Linked DNA regions of Homo sapiens. The protein of the gene in region 1 purifies or fractionates together with the protein of each later gene. This does not show direct contact. Each region holds a gene or a part of one and is shown in the gene's direction. Other genes may lie near its edges.

Region 1 (7,504 bases):
CATGTAGCAAAGGGGTTATAATGTCACTCTACTGACTGAACAATTGAACAAATTAAAATCTGCTCCTTTTTCTAATCGATTCCCCTGGCTTTCCTCCATTACGTGGGCAGATTGGCTATGAAAGGGTTTTGAAATCCTTGTTTGTACCCTTATAGGATTCTGTCTCCTTTATTTCTGGCAAGAAACTTAGGCACTGCAAAATAACATACAATTTTAATTATAAGACAACATTGGGCCAGGGGATGGACTGTTATATGCATGAGCCAAAGATAGTCTCTATATATTGATTCTGCCAGTACCAAACTCAATTTTTTACACATCAATTGTTTTAAATATAGACCAATAAGTAGATTGTTAGCCATTTAGAGGCTGCCTTCTTTGCATGTCCCTGTGAAACTACAATCATCTGTTAGCTATAGATAGGATAAACTCCAGGAGATAAAAACCCTAACCTACTGCTGCCCTTCAGAGATCTCTGACCCAGCAACTCCCTGTCTTGCTGCTGAGAGACATCGCTACATGTATAAGCCATCTCTTTGATTCCCCTCCCTCTCTCCAGTTAGCTTGTCCTCTCATTTTCTAGGTTGTGACCTCCCACCAGCCTCTGGAAGATCTCAGACTTTGATTAACCCCATGCCCTTGCAAACCTGTCAAAGGGTTGACCAAATGAAACTCGTATGCTTATACACTGTTGGTGGGAATGTAAATTAGTAATAATAAACACTATATATAGTTCAACCACTATAGAAAGCAGTTTGGAGATTTCTCAAAGAACATAAAACACAACTACCATTCAATTCAGTAATCACATTATCGGGCATATATCCAGAAGAAAAGAAATCATTCAACCAAAAAGACACATACACTCATAGTTGTTTGCAGCCTTATTAACAAGAGCAATGACATGGAGTCAACTTAGGTGTCTATCACTGATATTTGCTAAAGAAAATGTGGTACATATATACCATGGAATACAACACAGCCATAAAAACTAATGAAATAATGTCCTTTGCAGCAACATGGATGCAGCTGAAGGCCATTATCCTAAGCGAATTTACACAGAAACAGAAAACCAAATACCATATGTTCTCATTTATAAGTTGGAGCTAAAGATTGGGTACTCATCAACATAAAGGTGGCAAAAACAGACACTGGAGGACTATTAGAAGGGGGAAGAAGAAAGGGGGTCATGGGTTGAAAAACTGTTGAGTATTATGCTCACTACCTGGGTGATGAGATCATCTGTTTTCCAAACCTCAGCATCATGCAATATACCCATATAACAAACCTGTGTATGTATCCCCAGAATCTAAAATAAAAGTTGAAATTCTAAAACAGACAAACAACAAAAACTCATTGTGTGTTACTGAAAACGTGTGGTAGTATATATTTTTCTTGATCAGTCCCCAAATCTCTTGCACTCACTTGTTTCCTATATTTTAATTCTACATATAAATTACACAAAACATATTATTATTATTGTTTTACATTGTCAATATGTCTGTTTACCCACATATTTATCCTTTCTATTACTGTTCGCTTCTTGCATCTCTTCAGTTTCAGAGGAGAACCTTTCAGTATTTCCTCAGTGTGGGTGTACTGGTGATCAATTTACTCAGCACTGATTTCTGAACATGTATTTATTTTGCCTTCATTTTTGATGTACTATTTCAGTAAGTTCAGAATTCCAAATTATCAGCTTACAAATCATTAAATTCCTTAAGTGACAAACTTGTATACAATGTAAGACTCACCTCTTTGCACTTCCCTTTTTTCTGAGATCATTACTCTTGAAGTCCTCATTGCCTTTATAGGTTTCTGATGCTATATTGGTAGCCTTTGTTGCCATAAAAGGGTTTCTTTACCTAAATTTCTGGGGTTTTTTTTCCGCAGGGCTGCTGCAATCAACTATACATTATTAGAAATGGAATTCTTTGATATCATTATAATGACTTACTGGTATTCCATTTTTAGTACCATAATTTCTTCAAATACTCTTTAGTTATTTAACATTCATTTAGTTTTCAGCTCTGTTATACTAGAACAAATTATATAATAAAAGTTATTTTAGCTAAATATTTGCACATATATCTTATTATTTCTTTAGAATATATTTCTAGAGGTAAAAATTTTTAGTTTATAGGTTTGAACAACTTCAGGGTCTTTAAAAATCACTGTACCCTAGGTTAGGAATATCTGTTGCTAAAGCTTAGAAATATCTTAGGTTTTTTTGTGCCTCCCATTCTGAATAGGCCCCAGGCATAAAAACTGCATTGGACTTCACAGAACCGAAACTGGTTATTCATATAAGGGATTGCTTCTCCAATTGGAGACAGAGATGGTGACACATTGTGACTGTAGCCAGTTATTTTCCCTTTCCTAAAGACGTATTAAAAAAAAGTATTGGAACCAACCCAAATGCCCATCAATGACAGACTGGATAAAGAAAACATGGCACATATACACCATGGAATACTATGCAATAAAAAAGGATGAGTTCATGTCCTTTGCAGGGGCATGGATGAAGCTGGAAACCATCATTCTCAGAAAATTAACACAAGAACAGGAAACCAAACACCACACGTTCTCACTCATAAGTGGGAATTGAACAATTACAACACATGGACACAGGGAGGGGAACATCACACACCAGGGCCTGTCAAGAGGTGGGGAGATAGGGGAGGGATAGCATTAGGAGAAATACCTAATGTAGATGATGGGTTGATGGGTGCAGCAAACCACCATGGCACGTGTATACCTAGGTAACAAATCTGCACATTCTGCACATGTACCCCAAAACTTAAAGTATAAAAAAAAAGAAAAAAAGACAAAAGTATACTCCCAGATTTTTGAGAAGATATAAAGAAAGACAACATATAATAAATGTTTGCAGCAAGATATAAACATATCAATAAAGGGTCAATAGTGGTAAGCTGAATTGTAGTGGTTGTGTGAGTGTCAGAAAGTTAGTGTTTTCCCTCTATCTCTCTTCCTCTCTCTCTCTCCCCTACTTCTAAAAACAGCCTGCCCGTCCTCTTCAGTGTTTTCTTTCTTACTCACTGCTGCCGTGCTACTCTCAGTTGGAATGATTTTCTCATCCTTGTCCTTTTGGTAAATATCTACCCACTCATCTTTTTAAACATCTCCTCTTTTATGAAGCCTTTTCTGCATCTACAGGTAGAACTGACCCTGCCATCCCCTGCATTCTTTACAAACTTCTAGAAAATTTAGCTTTACTTTTTCTCTGACTCCCATTTTTACATCGGGTGCTCCTTGATGACAAAGAGATTAACTGTAACTTCGGGATAGATGACCAGTGTTTGTTGAGTGAATGAATAAAGGGATCAGGGTTGGATCTGCTCAAAAGTGCTAGAGTAATAGAGCAAAACAGAGCAGGTAACACATCCCTTAACACTCGGTATCTCAACTGACTTTCACAAAAGCTCTATTAAATGAGCAGGTGATTGTGGAGTGAAAGAATTAAACAAATTTTCAAGAGTTTTAGTGGCTTTCCCACTAAAGCCTGGGTGACTGGGAAAGTTTGGGCTGGGAATGTTGGGCTTTTCAAGCGTGTTCGAAGCTCCCTAATTGGTACTAAATTTCAGGCATTCAGACCCTCTAGGAAAGAGTTCTTTCTAGCTCACAACATTAGGGGAGGAGTTAGACACATAAATGGAGAAAGTGATAGAAGAGACATGGTCAGGGATGGGGGTTCTACCCTTCCAGAGACAATGCACATTTTCTTTGAAACAGCTTCGGGAAAACTGCAAATCTCAATGATATTTACCAATTTTGAGAATCTATTAAGTGCCTGGCACTCTGTGTAGAAGCCCTCCAATCGTACCCTAAATCTGAGAAGTATTTATTATTATTTCCATTTTTACTCCCTAATGCATCTACTCTAAGCTCCTTGCTTCACCCTACCAAAGTTTCCCTTCTGCTAGTGCTCTCCTTTGGTGCAGAACCACCGCATCCACTTTCTCAGGCCCAGGGGAGGGGCGGGGCGGGGCGATTTCGCCTTGCCGCAGAGCCAGTCTGCGCCTGCGCGGACTGCGGCAGAGGGCGGGGTGTGAGAAGCAGAGTACAGTGAGACTAGCATTCACTGCTGGCCAGTGCCTGCCTTTTTCACCACCTCTAATTTCAGCTTCAGCAGTTGCTTGGAACTTTGGTTCTGGCAGCAGCAGCAACATCATTACCGCTAGCGGCAGTTTTGTGCCGAGGCACCTACACACCTCCCGTCCTCTCTGCCAGATCGCGGGCCTGTCGGTGTCTGCTCCTACACGCCAACGCCGGTGGGCAGGACCATGTCTCTGGTAAGCCAGAATTCGCGCCGCCGCCGCCGCCGCGTTGCAAAGGCTACTGCGCACAACAGCAGCTGGGGCGAAATGCAGGCCCCTAATGCCCCCGGTCTCCCCGCTGATGTGCCAGGCTCAGACGTCCCCCAGGGTCCCAGCGATTCCCAGATCCTCCAGGGCCTCTGCGCCTCTGAGGGCCCAAGCACCTCCGTTCTGCCCACCTCCGCTGAGGGCCCAAGCACCTTTGTGCCGCCCACCATCTCTGAGGCCTCAAGCGCCTCCGGGCAGCCCACCATCTCTGAGGGACCTGGCACCTCCGTGCTGCCCACCCCCAGTGAGGGCCTAAGCACCTCCGGGCCTCCCACCATCTCTAAGGGGCTGTGCACCTCTGTGACGCTTGCCGCCTCTGAGGGCCGGAACACCTCCAGGCCGCCCACTTCCTCTGAGGAACCTAGCACCTCCGTGCCGCCCACCGCCTCTGAGGTACCGAGCACCTCCCTGCCGCCCACCCCTGGTGAGGGAACGAGCACCTCCGTGCCGCCCACAGCCTATGAGGGACCAAGCACCTCCGTGGTGCCCACCCCTGATGAGGGACCAAGCACCTCCGTGCTGCCTACACCTGGTGAGGGACCAGGCACCTCCGTGCCGCTCGCCGCCACTGAGGGCCTGAGCACCTCCGTGCAGGCCACTCCTGATGAGGGACCGAGCACCTCCGTGCCGCCCACCGCCACTGAGGGCCTAAGCACCCCCGTGCCACCCACCCGTGATGAGGGACCGAGCACCTCCGTGCCGGCCACTCCTGGTGAGGGACCGAGCACCTCCGTGCTGCCCGCCGCCTCTGACGGACAAAGCATCTCCTTGGTGCCCACCCGCGGTAAGGGATCAAGCACCTCCGTGCCCCCCACCGCCACCGAGGGCCTGAGCACCTCCGTGCAGCCCACTGCTGGTGAGGGATCGAGCACCTCCGTGCCGCCCACCCCTGGTGGGGGACTGAGCACCTCCGTGCCGCCCACCGCCACTGAGGAGTTGAGCACCTCCGTGCCGCCCACTCCCGGTGAGGGACCAAGCACTTCCGTACTGCCAATCCCCGGTGAGGGACTGAGCACCTCTGTGCCGCCCACCGCCTCTGATGGATCGGACACCTCCGTGCCGCCCACTCCTGGTGAGGGCGCAAGCACCTTAGTGCAGCCCACCGCCCCTGACGGACCGGGAAGCTCCGTGCTGCCTAACCCTGGTGAGGGCCCGAGCACATTGTTTAGCTCTAGTGCTTCTGTGGACCGGAACCCCTCCAAGTGTTCCCTTGTTTTGCCAAGCCCTAGGGTAACCAAGGCCTCCGTGGACTCAGATTCTGAGGGTCCTAAGGGTGCAGAAGGCCCTATAGAATTCGAGGTCCTGAGAGACTGTGAGAGCCCCAACTCCATTAGTATTATGGGCCTCAATACTTCCCGGGTTGCAATTACCCTGAAGCCCCAAGACCCTATGGAACAGAACGTAGCTGAGCTGTTGCAGTTCCTGCTGGTGAAGGATCAGAGCAAGTACCCTATCCGGGAGTCTGAAATGCGGGAATATATTGTTAAAGAATATCGCAACCAGTTTCCTGAGATACTCAGGCGAGCAGCAGCCCACCTGGAGTGCATTTTTAGGTTTGAATTGAGAGAACTTGACCCTGAGGCACACACCTACATTCTGTTAAACAAACTGGGACCTGTGCCCTTTGAAGGGTTAGAAGAGAGCCCAAATGGGCCAAAGATGGGCCTCCTGATGATGATTCTAGGCCAAATATTCCTGAATGGCAACCAAGCCAAGGAGGCTGAGATTTGGGAAATGCTCTGGAGGATGGGGGTGCAGCGGGAAAGGAGGCTTTCCATTTTTGGGAACCCAAAGAGACTTCTGTCTGTGGAGTTTGTATGGCAGCGTTACTTAGACTACAGGCCAGTAACTGACTGTAAACCAGTGGAGTATGAGTTTTTCTGGGGCCCAAGATCCCACCTAGAAACCACCAAGATGAAAATTCTGAAGTTCATGGCGAAAATATATAACAAAGATCCTATGGATTGGCCAGAGAAATACAACGAAGCTCTGGAAGAAGATGCTGCCAGAGCCTTTGCTGAGGGTTGGCAGGCTCTCCCTCACTTTAGGAGGCCCTTTTTTGAGGAAGCTGCTGCAGAGGTACCATCCCCTGATTCAGAGGTTTCCAGCTATTCCTCAAAATATGCCCCACATTCATGGCCTGAGTCAAGATTGGAGAGCAAGGCAAGGAAGCTGGTGCAGTTATTTCTGCTTATGGATTCAACTAAGCTGCCTATACCAAAGAAAGGAATTCTGTACTACATTGGCCGAGAGTGCAGCAAAGTGTTCCCTGACCTCCTGAATCGTGCTGCCCGCACCCTGAACCATGTCTATGGGACAGAACTAGTGGTACTTGATCCCAGGAATCACTCCTATACTCTGTACAACCGAAGGGAGATGGAAGAAACTGAGGAGATCGTAGACAGTCCAAACAGGCCTGGCAACAACTTTTTGATGCAGGTCCTAAGCTTCATCTTTATTATGGGCAACCATGCCAGGGAGTCTGCAGTCTGGGCCTTTCTGCGGGGCTTAGGGGTTCAAGCTGGGAGAAAGCATGTGATTACCTGCAGATACTTGAGTCAGCGCTATATAGACAGTTTACGGGTTCCTGACAGTGATCCAGTGCAATATGAGTTTGTATGGGGTCCTAGAGCCCGTTTGGAAACCTCTAAGATGAAAGCCTTGCGATATGTGGCCAGAATCCACAGAAAGGAACCACAGGACTGGCCACAGCAGTACAGGGAGGCAATGGAAGATGAGGCCAATAGAGCTGATGTTGGGCACAGGCAAATCTTTGTTCACAACTTCAGGTAGAGGAATGCATGGCAGTCAGAGGGGCCTTGCAAGGAGGGGCCTTTGAGCCTCAGTTCTCATGTATTGGGGGGTGGGGGTGGGTACATATTGTATTTGGTATTTGTGTTCCAGTTATATTTATGTCTTTTCATATTTAGTTCTGGTGTGGTGTCTGGAAATGTTTCAACTGTTTTAATATATTGTCTGATTGGGTAAATGTGATTGACCACTTGCTGTCTCTGTTGTATTTTGGTATGAGTTTTGATAGCTCTATAAAATGTTTTGGAAATCTTTCCATCTTGTTGCATTATCTAGAAAAGAATATAGCATATAGCTATAGATATAGG
Region 2 (7,293 bases), on another chromosome or scaffold:
AGCAAGGAGCATGGACGGCTTCATCAGAAGTTGTCAGCGAGGAGCATGGACGGCTTCATCAGAAGTTGACGTGACGCTTGTAAGCCAAAAATAAAATCCTAAGGCCTCCCAACCGTCTGCATGGACCCCTCTTCTCTGCCAAGGGCATTCCAGAGTTAACCTTAACATCTAGTTCAGGCCATGATGGAAGAGGGAGTCAGGCCTCTTTATATCCCTCCAGCATTAACATCAATGTAGACATAAAGTCTGATAAGAAACATTGACAGTCTATTCTCTCTGAAGCCTGATACTTGGCGGCTTCACCTGCTTAATAAAACCTTGGACTTAAAAAGTAAAGTCTTAAAAAGTAGAAAGTAAACCCCTTTCTACTGATAATAACTCTTTCAACCAATTGCCAATCAGAGAAATTTTAAATCTACCTATGACCTGGAAGCACCCCCTCCCTTCCAGCTGTCCCGCCCTTCCAGATGGAACCAATGTAAATCTTACATGTATGGATTGATGTGTTATGCATCCCTAACATGTTTAAAAGCAAGCTGTACCCTGATCCCCCTGGGCACATGTCCTTAGGACTGCCTGAGAGTATGTCACGGGTGCTCCTTAGCATTGGCAAAATAAACTTTCTTAATTGACTGAGACTGTCTCAGATATTTTGGGTTCATACCCTCATGAAACAAGGAGAGAATACCCCCACACATACAATGAAGACCTAAATGGTGTGATTTCTTTGGTAATGGCTTTGCTAAGGGCAGCCACTCTTGTAAACAGGGCGGGGTGGAGGAGGGGGTGTCGGAGGTATGGTGGGATATAAGGATGAAGTCGACCTTAGAGTCGGGGAGAGAACAAGGACAGAGATTAAATGTGCCTTCTTTAACACAGCCTTTCTGAGTCCTGACACTGTCCCAGGCACTGTGCAGTACGAAGATAAGCACGGAGAATGAAATGGCCAACTCTGTGGGGGTCCACTAGGAAGGTTCACAAAAGAGGTGACCCCCTCTGCTGTATCTTAAATAGAATTTGCCCATCACATTCGGTTGGATGAGGCTAGGAAGAATGTCCAGGTTGGAGAACATCACTTTGGAAAAGAATGGAGATGAGAAGGAGCACGGCTCAAAGTTCCAGGAACTGTCAATATTTACCAGCCTTGGGGTGGGAGTAGCAGCGTGGGAGGGGGCAGGAAACAGAGCAGGGCCAGCCTCTGAAGAGCCTCGAGTGTTAAGTACCATTTGGGAATTTGTTCTGGGGAAACAGAAGGCCACTGAAGAGTTTAATGAAAGAAGTGGCATTAGCTGGCAAGCTTGTGGAGAAATGGTTAGCAGGGCTACTGGGTTAGCAGGGAGAGTTGCTGGGGGTATTCGGATAGTCCCGGTTGGGAGCTCTGAGGCCTTTAAACAGATCACTGGGATGAAAGTGGCTACAGTCAGGTGATGGGCTGATTAACTGACCATTTAATCAGGGGGAAGATGACTTCCAACTTCCGGTTTTGGTGGTTAGGGTTGGAGCCAGGTCTCTGAAACTAGTGACGCAGGAGCAAGGGTGGGTGGGAGGGGTATGGGTGAGTCCAGTGGGGACAGAACTCTGCAACCCCAACAATTCATGGGAGGTGGAATCTGAGAAGGAGCTGCCAGAAGAATGGGATAGAAGCCCAGGAGAAGAAATATTTCCAGGAGGGGGCCGGGCGCGGTGGCTCACGCCTGTAATCCCAGCACTTTGGGAGGCTGAGGCGGGCGGATCATGAGGTCAGGAGATCGAGACCATCCTGGCTAACACGATGAAACCCCGTCTCTACTAAATATACAAAAAATTAACCGACCGCGGTGGCGGGCGCCTGTAGTCCCAGCTACTCGGGAGGCTGAGGCAGGAGAATGGCGTGAATCCGGGAGGTAGAGCTTGCAGTGAGTTGAGATCGCACCACTGCACTCCAGCCTGGGCAACAGAACGAGACTCTGTCTCCAAAAAAAAAAAAAAGAAATATTTCCAGGAGGGAGTGCTAAACTGTGCTACCAAGAGAGGGAGGGAAGAGGATGAGGGAGGACAGAAGGAGGACTAGGGGAAGTGGTGGGAGGATTGGAGAGGCTTGGGTGGCTGGAGGAAGACGGGAGGACAGAGGGGGGGATGGGAGGAAGAGGGGTGTGGGGAGAGTTGGGGGAGGATGTGGGGGCAGAGGGTGGAGGAAGCAGTGAGAGGATAAGAGGAGGATGGAGGGGATTGAGGGAAACAGCTGGAGGCTGAGGAAAGATGGGGTTGGGGGGTGGTGGGAAGGGTAGTGGATGCTGGGGGAGGCAGCCTTCTATTTCCATAGGACAAATTTGATACTCTTCTAATCCCTTCAGTGGCCTTCTATTTCCCTAGAACAAATTCCCAAATGGTACTTAACACTCAAGGCCCTTCAGAGGCTGACCCCTGCTCCATCTACTGCCCCCTCCCATGCTGCCACCCCAGCCCCAAGGCTGGCAAATATTGACAGTTCCTGGAACTTTGGGCCACCCTCCTTCTCATCTCTATTCTTTTCCAAAGTGTTGTTCCCCGACCTGGACATTCTTCCTAGCCCCATCCAACTGATGTGATGGACAAACTATACTTCAGATACAGCTGGAGGTGCGGGGGGGGGGGGTCCCTTCTTTTGTGAACCTTCCTAGTGGACCCCAAGCAGAGTTGGTAACTCCATCCTCTGTGCTTACCTCCTTACTGCACTGTGCCTAGGACATGGTCAGGACTCAGAAAGGCTGTGCTAAATAACGCACATTTAACCTGTTTCCTTGTCTTCTCCCCTACTCTAAGGTTGGCTTCATCCTTATATCCTACTGATATGGTTTGGCTCTGTGACCCCACCCAAATCTCATCTCGAATTGTATTCCCCATAATCCCCACGTGTCAAGGGAGGGACTTGGTCGGGGGTGATTGGATCACGTCAGCGGTTTCCCCCGTGCTGTTCTCGTGATAGTGAGTGAATTCTCACGAGATCTGTTGGATGTAAAAGGGGCTTTTGACCCTTTTGCTGGGCACCTCTCTTCCTGCAGCCATGTGACGAAGGACGTGTTTGCTTCCCTTTCCGCCATGATTTTAAGTTTCCTGAGGCTTCTCCAGCCATGCAGAACTGTGAGTCAATTAAACCTCTTTTCTTTATAAATTACCCTGTCTCAGGTGGTTCTTTATAGCAGTGTGAAAACGGGCTAATACACCTACCATACTTCTAACCCCCAACGCCTGACCCACCCTGCCCTGTTTACAACAGTGGCTGGCCTTAGCAAGTCATTATCGAAGAAATCACACCATTTAGGACTCCACTGTACACGTTGGGGTGTTCGCTCCTTGTTTCATGAGGGGCACACCAACTTCCGTTTTTGTTTGTTTGTTTGTTTGTTTGGAGATAGGATCTTGCCCTGTTGCCCTGGCTGAAGTGCAGTGGTGTGATCTCAGCTCACTGCAGCCTCGAACTCCTGGGCTCAAGTGATCCTCTCACCTCTGTCTCCTAAGTGGCTGGGACTACAGGTGTGCAACACCACGCCTGGCTAAGTTTTGTATTTTTGTATTTTTTTTTTTTTTTTTTTTTTTTGTAGAGAAGAGGTCTCTCCATGTTGCCCAGGCTGGTTTCAAACTCCTGAGCTCAAGTGATCCTCCGTCTTGGCCTCCCAAAATGCTGGGATTACAGGAGTGAGCCATTGTCCCCACCCCGCACCAACTTCTGATGAAGTCAGGCTCCTTATTGGCTTTTTCCTGAGTTGCCAGGTTGACACATTGGTGGGTGCTTTTCGATGGTTCGCAACCTACGCACGTCGTAATCATCCTTGGACCTTTTCAAAAATCAAGATTGACGCTTGTTGGCAGCAAGGCCTAGGAATGTGGAGGCTGAAGGAGGTGAGGGGAGGTGCTGGGAGACCTGGAAGGAGTGTGAACTACAGGCCCCGCGAAAGGCAGAGGTCTCGCTCCTGGATCCGGAAGAAGGCTGCTGAGCGGGCTTTCATTTCTTATGTATGTGCAGTTTCTTCTGAAGATATAATTGATGTTTATTTCTCTGAATAAGCTTGATTATAATGGAAAATAGGGATAATAAATTAACTGTAATAAGAGTGACATTGACACTGAAAAACCTTGCCTGGGGCGCTTGTCCTGGGTGTCCCCGCCCCGCGGCCCCTCCAGCCCCGCCTGCTCTACGCCCCGCCCCGCCCCTCCCCTCCACGCCCAGGGGGCGTGGCAACCCGGAGTCCCTCCCCTACCCAGGGCACGTGATCTGTCAGTTCGCGGAGAGGGAAGAATATGGCCGCCGGGTGTGGTGAGGGCGACGCGCTTGCAGTCGCCGTCTCTTGCTTCCCCGTCCTCTGACATCGCCTGCAGCCGAGCGGGCCCGTTCCGCCGGAGCTGAGGACCAGGTTGGGAGACCGTCAGTGTGGAGGCCGGTCCGCGAAGCTTTGCCGCGGGATTGGGGAGGAGTCGGGGGCGAGGCCGGGCTCGGGGAGTCGGGCGGGGAGGTGGGACAGCCGAGGAGTGCGCGGAAGGGGCGAGCTCGGACCGGGGGTCCCGGGGAGGGCATGGCGCGGGCCCCGGACGCTCGGGCCCCGGCTTTCGGGGCGAGTCCGCGTTTCCTGGAGCGCCGGGAAGGTCTCCGACCTTGGAGTCTCTGGTGGTCTGTCTCCTGAGGGGCCCCTCGGGTGGGTTGGGGTGAAGGGTGTTGGTAAAACCGTTTTTTTTCTTTTGCCAAGCAGCCTCTGGCACATCCACCACCTTGAGAGCCCCCTTAGCTGGTACCGCTAGTCTTTCTAGGTTCCTCCTCCTAGGCTTCCACGGGCCGGGAGGTGTTGTTTTCTCCCTTGCTTTTATCGTGGGCTCCATTGCTCCATTGTCCTGTGCAGGCTTTTAAACGCCTGGCAAAATAGTGCAAGCCATTGATTTCCACGCCTCCAAGATTTATTTATAGGGAAATAATTTCTTCATCACTTTGTAATGTTGGAATTTTTATTCTTTCAAGTTGACAGGTTTAAACCGATGAAAAATTTTTTTATGAATAACTATGCAGCCATCTCTGCTCCCTATGGGCGCTTGTTAAAAATGTAGATTTCTTAGCGTTTTAGAGATTCCCATTCCTTCGGCCTGAGGTGTGGCTCGGGAATCACCCCTTCAGGTTCGTTCCTGTCCACATTTTGACAACACTGAGGACCAGACATCTACACCTTTTTAAACCACCGTGGGGTATTGAGTGCAGAGCCCAGGTTGGGAAATGCCGTGGCCAGGTGTGTTCTTTGTTCTCTTCTAGCTTTACTAGCATGGACTACTTTCATCAGAATCATTTTGGGGTGCTTGTTAAAATGTCAGTTTCTGGGCACCACCCCAGATCTAGGGAATGGGATTCTCCCGGGGAGGAGCTCAAGGGATATGTGTATTTGACAAGCTTCCCAAATAATTTTGGTGCACACAAGTTTGAGAATCCTTGTTCTACACCCTTTGTGTGAATAATTTCCAGATCATTCACACACAGTGTGAACGGTATCTTTTTCCAAGTATTGGGTGGGTTTCTCCAACCTAGTTCTTTTGGGACACTTCAAATTCAGCCTGGCCAAAGCCCCATTCGCCCAGCTGGGGTGGTGGAAGGGAGGAGGCATAACTTAAGTAGAGAAAAGTCTGCTCTTTCTCCTGCTTTTTTTTTTTTGGTTAAGGGCAGCTCCATTCTTCAGTCACCTATGCTGGGCATCTGGTCATCTTCCACCTGTTTTCTTTTCCAACCAGTCACATAGTTTTATCTTTATATCCAGAATATCTCTTCTGGATATTTTGGTAGTTCAGAAAGTTCAAATGTCAGGGATTTTATATTTTTCAAGTTAATATCCCTCATTTCTTCTCTATTCCCACTGCCTCTCTTGTGTACTGTCTGGTGATTCCTTGACTGGTATCTAGGGCCCTGATTCTTTGTATTTTTCCAGTCTGGGTCACATACACTGCCAGATTAATTTTTATAGGATCATGTATGAATGTGCCATCCCCTTCTTCCTGCTTTTGCTCAAGAACGGTCAGTTTCTCCATTTTATGTGCTACTGTATTTGTCAGGGCTGTTTAGAAGACAGTAGAAACTTAAACCTTTTACTTCAAGGAAAAGGAGATAATAGGATTGAATGAGAGTCAGAAAGAAGTCAGGATCCCAGGTACCTCCATTTTCTACATCTCCCTGGGGCAACTTTTTTTTTTTTTTTTTTTTTTTGAGACAGGGTCTGGCTCTGTTGCCCAGGCTGGAGTGCAGGTGGTGTGATCTTGGCTCACTGCAGCCCTGACCTCCTCTTAGGGGCCACATTTGTTCTCTTACTTAGGAGGAGTCTCTTTTCTGTTCATATCTGTTGTATTCTCTCTTTGCTGATTGGCTGTCTCAGAACTGTATCATTTTATGTGTGACCCATATTGATTGGCCCAGTCTCTGGTTTCTAATTCCCAGTTCTAGAGAGAGAAGTCTGATTGGCCCAGCTTATCTTTTTCAACAGTTTCATGCCACAGATCATATGCCCATCCCTGGGAATGGCTGATGCTAGAGAACATGGCTGTTGAGGGTAGCAGGGGCTGTGGGTGGGCAAAGTCCTTCAGAAGAGGTATCTTTAGCATACCTATGCAGTTATTTAATTTGATGGTTATCTATTAAGTTTCTACCTGTTCTAGATCTGTAATAGGTTCTGGGGATGTAAGAATGAAGGAGAGAGACAGCCCTTAATAAATTAGTTCAAGGCTGGGCATGCAGGCTCACACCTGTAATCTCAGTGCTTTGGGAGGCTAAGGCAGGAGGATCACTTCAGGCTAGGAGTTCAAGAGCAGCCTCGGCAATATAGCAAGTCCTGTCTCTACAAAAATTAAAAATGTAAACAATGATCTGGGTGTGTTGGCATGCACCTGTAGTCCCAGCTATTCAGGGAGGGTGAGGCAGGAGGATCGCTTGAGTCCAGGAGTTTGAGTCTGCAGTGAGCTATGAATGTGCCACTGCACTCCATCCTGGGCAATAGAGCCAGACCCTGTCTCAATAAAAATAAATAACTAAATACATACATACATACATACATATACATACATAAGTTAGTTTATAGGTGACCCGCGAGGGGGGTTTTGAAGGGTGTGTTTTGGCTTGTTAAGAATGTTAAAGTTGGGTCAGGCATTACAGGTGGTTGGATCAGCTTGGGCATGTCCATTCATTCTACCGATACTGGGTTCTGTGGTGTACCAGGCACTTCTCTTAAGTGCTGGAGATTCAGCAGTAAACAAAACAGATAGTCTTTATTCTCATTGAGCTACATTTGTTTGGCTAGGGGAAGCAGACCAAAAACA
Region 3 (7,472 bases), on another chromosome or scaffold:
TCAAGTGATTCTCCGGCCTCAGCCTCCCAAGTAGGTGAGATTACAGGTACCTGCCACCATGCCTGGCTAATTTTTGTATTTTTAGTAGAGACGGGGTTTCACCATGTTGACCAGGCTGGTCTTGGACTCCTGACTTCAAGTGATCCACCCGCCTTGGCCTCCCAAAGTTCTGGGATTACAGGTGTGAGCCATGGTGCCCGGCCTGGGACCACTTTCCACTGGGAAAATTGTTGTCATATTTAGGAATAATAAGATTATTATTCCAGTGAAGACTATGGAATTTATAAACTCCTTTGTATTAGTATCCATAATAGTATAGATAGAGCTATGTGTTTTATCTAAAGATAGAATAGCTGTTCTCAATCCAAAAAGAACTGAAGATACTGTGTTTGACAGTTGGATATTTCTGAGTTGTAGGGATTCTGGACTTTATAATACATTTATAAAATATTTTTGCTTGCTGTTTTATGACTTACATAAAGATGTGTCCTCTTTTATCTTTAGTCTGAGGACCCAGAAGAAGATGCCAGGTTAAAGCAGTTGCAGGCTGCAGCAGCACACTGGCAGCAGCACCAGCAGCATCGAGTCGGTTTCCAGTATCAGGGAATAATGCAGAAGCACACTCAGTTACAGCAGATTCTACAACAGTATCAGCAGATTATACAGCCCCCACCACATATACAGGCAAGTGCTTCCATAGTCCACAATAGGAAGTTGCCCCAAGACATTGAAAGGATTTGTTATTCTTGAAAGATTTAAGTGTAAAAAACAAAAGATACCAACTGTTGACAATTAGTTGTTTCCCAAGGGGTGCCCAAGTAGTTATCTGCCACATTACCTGGGGGACTGGGGAGGGGTTGGTTATAGTAGAGTTTCCTGATCATGTCAACCCAGGCCAGATGTTAGCTTACTATTGCTAAGGGTCTTAAGAGCTGGGGATTTTTACCATATAGCTACAGGTTAACCTGTGTTTTGCCTGTAAACTACAACAGTAACAGATAAGCAAAGAGGCCAAAAACAGCCATCACAAAAAACCTAAGCAAATATACCGTAAAAGATAAAGTGACTTAGATACTTGTTTGTGTTGTATCTTTGAGGGGTAATGTTGTGTCTGTATATCTATAATAACAGATCATTTTTCAAGTTCTTGAAATTATCCATATTAAAAACTTGAAAAATACTTATTGCTAAGATAGGTATTTGCTTTATTGTTTGGTTGGTTTTTCCAACTCTGTAGTAAGTTGTCTAAGCCAAAGGAAGGAAGAAGAATGATCATCACTCAAAGAACTTAACGAACTTATTCTTAGCCTCCCAAAGTCTTTAGTGTTCTAATTTCCTAAAGCGTCAAATGCCCTTGATTCATTAATATTTTAACCTATGATTAATTATCTTATATGAATGGTTTTAAATAGTTTTTATCCCTTTATTTGTAGACCATGTCTGTAGATATGCAGCTGCGGCATTATGAGATGCAGCAGCAACAGTTTCAACATCTTTACCAAGAATGGGAGCGAGAGTTTCAGCTATGGGAGGAACAACTCCATTCCTATCCTCATAAAGATCAGCTTCAGGAGTATGAGAAGCAGTGGAAAACATGGCAGGGACATATGAAAGCCACTCAGAGCTATCTCCAGGAGAAAGTCAATTCATTTCAGAACATGAAGAACCAGTATATGGGGAACATGTCAATGCCACCTCCTTTTGTTCCATATTCTCAGATGCCTCCACCTCTACCTACAATGCCCCCTCCAGTGTTGCCTCCTTCATTGCCACCACCAGTGATGCCCCCTGCCCTCCCTGCTACAGTGCCACCACCTGGCATGCCCCCACCTGTTATGCCACCTTCTCTACCAACCTCTGTTCCCCCACCAGGGATGCCTCCTTCTCTCTCTTCTGCAGGGCCACCACCAGTTCTCCCCCCACCTTCCCTGTCTTCTGCAGGGCCACCACCAGTTCTTCCCCCACCATCTCTCTCTTCAACAGCACCTCCACCTGTCATGCCCCTCCCACCATTGTCTTCAGCTACACCTCCTCCAGGAATACCTCCCCCTGGAGTTCCACAAGGGATACCTCCTCAGTTAACAGCAGCCCCAGTTCCACCAGCCTCCAGTTCACAGAGCTCGCAAGTTCCAGAGAAACCTAGACCAGCACTGCTTCCTACTCCTGTGTCTTTTGGTTCTGCCCCACCGACAACTTACCATCCTCCGTTGCAATCAGCTGGTCCATCAGAACAAGTGAATTCAAAAGCTCCTTTGAGCAAGTCTGCTCTGCCATACAGTTCATTCTCATCTGATCAAGGACTTGGGGAGTCTTCAGCTGCTCCATCTCAGCCAATCACTGCAGTGAAGGACATGCCAGTGAGATCAGGTGGCCTGCTTCCAGATCCTCCTAGAAGTAGTTACTTGGAAAGTCCAAGAGGCCCAAGGTAGGTCTGCTTTTTTTTCTCTTTTTTTTTGGTTTGGCTATTTTATTGACTTAGGCTATTTGGTTCTCGATGGTATAAAAAGCTTCATTTATACAATGTTTATACTCTCTTTGTACTTATATTGTCTGCTTGTTAAGACATCACGTATGTAATCTAGAAAAGGTAACATGCCCCCATTTCTTTGATGTCTCTGCTTTTGTCCTATATGTAGAGATTATAATCCAGAATGAATGTAGTATTGTAGAGTAATGCTAATCATTTTGTATTGACTTATTAGCTTTAAAAATAATATTAAACTTTATCTTTTGTTTGCTTTTTCATTCATTTGACAAATAATTGAATTGGCAATTACTATTTGTTAGATAATTTGTTAGTTGTTAGAGATAAAGATGAATAAGCCAATATTCTACTGGCTTGAGGCAGTGAAATTTAGCATAAGGTAAGTAGGACTTTTATTTTATCCATTCAGCAAATATTTAAGTTCCTGCTCTTGTACTTAGAGCAGTGAATATAGCAGAACACATAAAATTCCTGCCCCCATGGAGCTTACATCCTTTATATTTTCCCCAGTTAAGGAGATACTTCTGTTTATCCTGAACAACATATTTAGAAAGAAAAAAAATTGCTGGTGTGTAAGTTTTTTCTCTTTACCTTCTAAAAACTGTTAAATTCATTTTTTCCAAGTTTGTAAAAATAGATTTTTCTCCCCAAGTTGACCTAAATGATAACTTTTCTATGGAAATTATTATTATTTTTTGAGACAGGGTCTCGGTTTTTCACCCAGGCTAGTGTGCAGTGATAGAATTATGGCTCAGTGCAGCCTCTTCCTCCTGGGTTCAAGCAGTCCTCCCACCTCAGCCTCCCAGGTGGCTGGGACCAGAGGTGCGCACCAACACATCTGGCCAGTTTTTAAAAAATACTTCGTAGAGATGGGGATCTTCCTATGTTGACCAGGCTGGTCTCAAACTCCTGGGCTCAAGCGATCCTCCTGCCTTGGCCTCCCTGCCTGCCGTGGCCTCCCAAAGTGCTGGGATTACAGGTGTGAGCCACCACGCTCAGCCAGAAAAATACTTTAATCAGTTTTTTTCTCAGTTGGGAATTGTAGTAGAAATGGGTACTCCTTATACAAAATTCAAACATTACAGAAAAGTGTAGAAAAAAGTGAAAGTCACCTAATTCCACCATCTGGAGAGAATCATTTTAAAAATATATGTTGCAGAAATGGGATCATACTGAGTAGATTATCTTATAACTTATTTTTCCACCAATCTGCGTATTGCTTAGATTTTCATCTCAGTATCAGTGGATCTACATCATCATTTTTTTCAACCTCATTTTAACATTTGAAAACAAAATATATCTTTTATTCCCCAAGCTTATAATTCTGAAAGCAGTGTGGCACAAAACTCCATCCACAATCAAAGTTAAGAGAAAGGGCAATTAACATGAATTCCTCTGTGTACCAAGAAGCCTTGCTAGAGACTTTACACACATTATTATCTCATGGAAGTCTTCTCAACAACCTGTGAAGTAGGCAGATTATTCTCCATTTACTCTTAACAAAATGGCACTGAGAGGACTGCGTAACTTGCTCAGTCAGGATTATTTAGCAGAGTGAGTAGAACCCCAGAATAGGTACAGTTGAGTCTAGAGGGTCCCCAAAGCAAAAGTACTATTTAAGCTCTGTTTACTGCCATGATTCAAGCCTATACTGTCAGTGCTTATTTGGCATGTGTATCATCTTGATTTGAATTCGTTCTTAATCTCCTGGAATGAGCATTGCCTTTTAGATCTGGTAACTAATTTGCTATCAGAGAAGTACATTCTTAACACCTCATGAAACATACATTTCCTGCTCCCTTGATTTCCGTCATGTTAATATTTTCTCTCTTTGCCTACTAAATCTTGGCTGTGTGAATTTAGGACCTATTTTAAGTTTTGTCTTCAGAAGAAAATAACTTCTCAAGTTAATAATCTCTGTGCTGGGAGGATATTAGCAATTATCTAATATATCTGTCTACGGCAACGCACGTTTGTATTCCATTTCAGTTTGTCACAATGAGTCTTGCACATATCATCTTATTTATTCCTCTTAGTGATATCAGGAGGTAAATAAATACATAAGAAAAGCTGAGATTCAGAGAGGTTGTAAATACCTTGCCTCATATAACACAGCTAGTAAATGGTCAAGATGAGATTAGAATCCAAGGACTTCTGACCCACTTTAAGTCCATTGTACTTTCTGTGATGAGCAGTTGTATGCTTAACATTGGCATTGTGATTAGGAACACTGCCATATAAGGCATTGATTCTAGAAAGTTTGTTTTTTACATTGAACCTAAATGTGATTCTTTAACTTTTATCTGTTGATTCTAGATTTGCCTCTGGAGCAACACAGAATGAATTATCCTATGCCTCTTCTACAGCATGTCACTACAGTTATTTAAAAACTATTACCCTCATGTCTCCCTCACCCTACCTCACCCAGTTTGCTCTGCCAATCACAACTCAGATTCTTTTCATCTTAACATTGTTTCTAACCTCATCCTGCTGTACTGCTCACTGTCCTTTGAAGGGCCTTTAGTTTGTTAGTCTCCTTCAGAATGAACACTTACTTCAGATGCAGAGGAGCATGGGCCTAGTACCAACTTCATTATAAATAATGTGCTTATATTGTATAGCTTAACAAATTGCTTTTTTGTTTGTTTTTTTCAGCACTCTCACAGTGTTGACTCTTGTTGAACTTAACATCAATCTAGCTTCCCAGGTCTTTTTCACATTAGCTTTTATTAAGCCAAGTCTCTCTTATCCTGAACTTGTGTGGTTGGTTTTTTGTTTTTGTTTTTCTTGTTCCTTTTTCTAAGACTTTACATTTCTCTTTAGATTGTTTTCTAGTTAGGTTTGCACCATCATTTCAGTCTGCTGAAATCTTGGTCAATGATGATTATATTGTTTTAGGTATGTGATATCCCTCTTCAGCATTTTCATCTGCAGCTTTGATAAGGATGGCTTTTTAATCCTTGAATTGGATCCTACTCACATTATCCACCTTGTTTTGAAAACGTTTCCCCTAACTAGCTTATGTCATTGCCATTTCAGTCACCCCCTGCTGCTTTTGCTCACTCAGCCCTTATAGAGTATAGTTTGGGACTGTTACCCAGGCATAGTTCTTTTTCTCCAGTGTAACTAGGTAAAAAATCAGTGGGAAGCTGGTTAGTGAGTGAACAAGACTGAGGTAAGAATAATCTATACTATTAAGGAAACCTGTGAACTTCTTGTATTTCTAATTCAGATTTTGCTATCAAACATATAACTGATATGAGAAGCCACTTTTTTTAAATAATCAAAGCTGATTAGAAAAACAAGAGTTTAGAACACAACTAAACAAATTTACTGATAACATGCTGTTACAAATAAAGTACTGTAAATGGCTTTGAGTTTTTGCAAAATCCAGATTTAAGCTGCTTTATAAAAACGAGATTTCTAAAAAGTCATGTGACAAAACTGCATGACATGTAAATAACATATCACATTGTTGAGAGTCTAGGGGAGCTGTTTTGACACTGTGTATATCATTGGATTCACTCAGTCTTCCAGAAGACTACCGTTGGTCCAGAAAACTGTCATATCAATGGATGTTGGTTTTCCAGGACCTTTTTTTTCACATATAATAAAACTTATTGAAACGTAACAGAGAAGTGCACAATTTTAAGTGTTCAGCTTAGTGAATTTTCACAAAATAAAGACACACATTGGCCAGGTGCGGTTGCTCATGCCTGTAATCCCAGCACTTTGGGAGGCTGAGGGGGGAGCGGATCATGAGGTTAAGAGTTCGAGACCAGCCTGGTCAATATGGTGAAACCCCATCTCTACTAAAAAATACTAAAATTAGCTGGCATGGTAACATGCGCCTGTAGTCCCAGCTACTTGGGAGGCTGAGGCAGGAGAATTGCTTGAACCCGGGAGGCGGAGGTTGCAGTGAGCCAAGATCGTGCCACTCTACTCCATCCTGGGTGACAGAGTGAGACTCCGTCTCAAAAAAAAAAAAAAAAAAAAAGGCACACATGGTATCACTACTAGATCAAGAAATAGGAATTACTGGTGCCCAAGAAATCTCCCTCATCCCCCTCAGTTATTTTCTAATACCCCAAAGATAACTGCTATACTGAGCCATAGATTAGTTTTGCCTATTTTTGAACTTCATGTGAGTGAAATAATACTGTATGTACTCATGAGTCTGGCATCTTTCACTTGACATTGTATTATTGTGAGAGTCATCCATGTTGTGTGTAGTAGTAGTTTATTCCCGTTCCTGTACAATAGTTCATTGTATGAATATAACACAATCTGTTTATCCATTTTAATATTAATGGTCATTGAAGTTTTTTGGTTATTATGAAAAGTGCTGCTGTGTGTCTTTTGATGCTGTATGTGTCCCTTTAGATGTATGTGTTTGTTTGTGTGTGTTTAATTTTGTTTGGATATCTATTAAGGATTGGAATTGCCTGATTATAGAGTATATACATGTTCTGCGTTAATGGGTATTGTTAAACATTTTTCCAAAGTGGTTGTTTCAGTTTATATTCTCACCAGCAGTGTTTCAGTGTTTCAGTTTTTTTGCATCCTTATCAACACTTGGTATTGTTAAACTTTTAAGGTTTAGCAATCCTAGTGGATGTTTAGTGGTATCATGATAATGGATTTAATTTACATTTCCCTGATGACTAATGAGGTTTCACTTTTTTTATTTGATTATTGTTAATTTGTATTTCCTCTTTTATGAAATGCTGATTCAAGTCTTTTTCCCATTTTTTGACTAGGTTTTATGTCTTACTGATTTTGTAGGAGTTCTTTGTGAATTCTACACATCAGTTTTTTATCCATTATATGTATTACAAATTTCTCACTGCAGGACTTTTTATTTTCTTAATGAGCACTTGAATGTAAACGCTGCATGCTGGGTACAGTGGCTCATGCCTGTAATCCCAGCACTTTGGGAGGCTGACGCGGGCAGATCACTTGAGGTCAGGAGTTTGAGACCAGCGTG

What was found. The genes of interacting proteins can lie anywhere in the genome.
Region 2: the proteins of MAGEE1 (region 1) and KIDINS220 purify together in Homo sapiens (affinity purification with mass spectrometry; 2 studies listed by BioGRID and IntAct, with this or other methods). This does not show direct contact.
Region 3: the proteins of MAGEE1 (region 1) and YLPM1 purify together in Homo sapiens (affinity purification with mass spectrometry; 2 studies listed by BioGRID and IntAct, with this or other methods). This does not show direct contact.

The regions. Positions count from the first base shown.
Region 1 is NC_000023.11:76,423,627-76,431,130, forward strand, and holds the start of MAGEE1 (melanoma-associated antigen E1), read left to right. Parts: upstream 1-4,083; 5' UTR 4,084-4,304; coding exon 4,305-7,178; 3' UTR 7,179-7,504. UniProt on the Homo sapiens protein: May enhance ubiquitin ligase activity of RING-type zinc finger-containing E3 ubiquitin-protein ligases. Proposed to act through recruitment and/or stabilization of the Ubl-conjugating enzyme (E2) at the E3:substrate complex.
Region 2 is NC_000002.12:8,834,557-8,841,849, reverse strand, and holds the start of KIDINS220 (kinase D-interacting substrate of 220 kDa), read left to right. Parts: upstream 1-4,236; 5' UTR 4,237-4,370; intron 4,371-7,293. UniProt on the Homo sapiens protein: Promotes a prolonged MAP-kinase signaling by neurotrophins through activation of a Rap1-dependent mechanism. Provides a docking site for the CRKL-C3G complex, resulting in Rap1-dependent sustained ERK activation.
Region 3 is NC_000014.9:74,779,901-74,787,372, forward strand, and holds part of YLPM1 (YLP motif-containing protein 1), read left to right. Parts: intron 1-504; coding exon 505-684; intron 685-1,433; coding exon 1,434-2,425; intron 2,426-7,472. UniProt on the Homo sapiens protein: Plays a role in the reduction of telomerase activity during differentiation of embryonic stem cells by binding to the core promoter of TERT and controlling its down-regulation.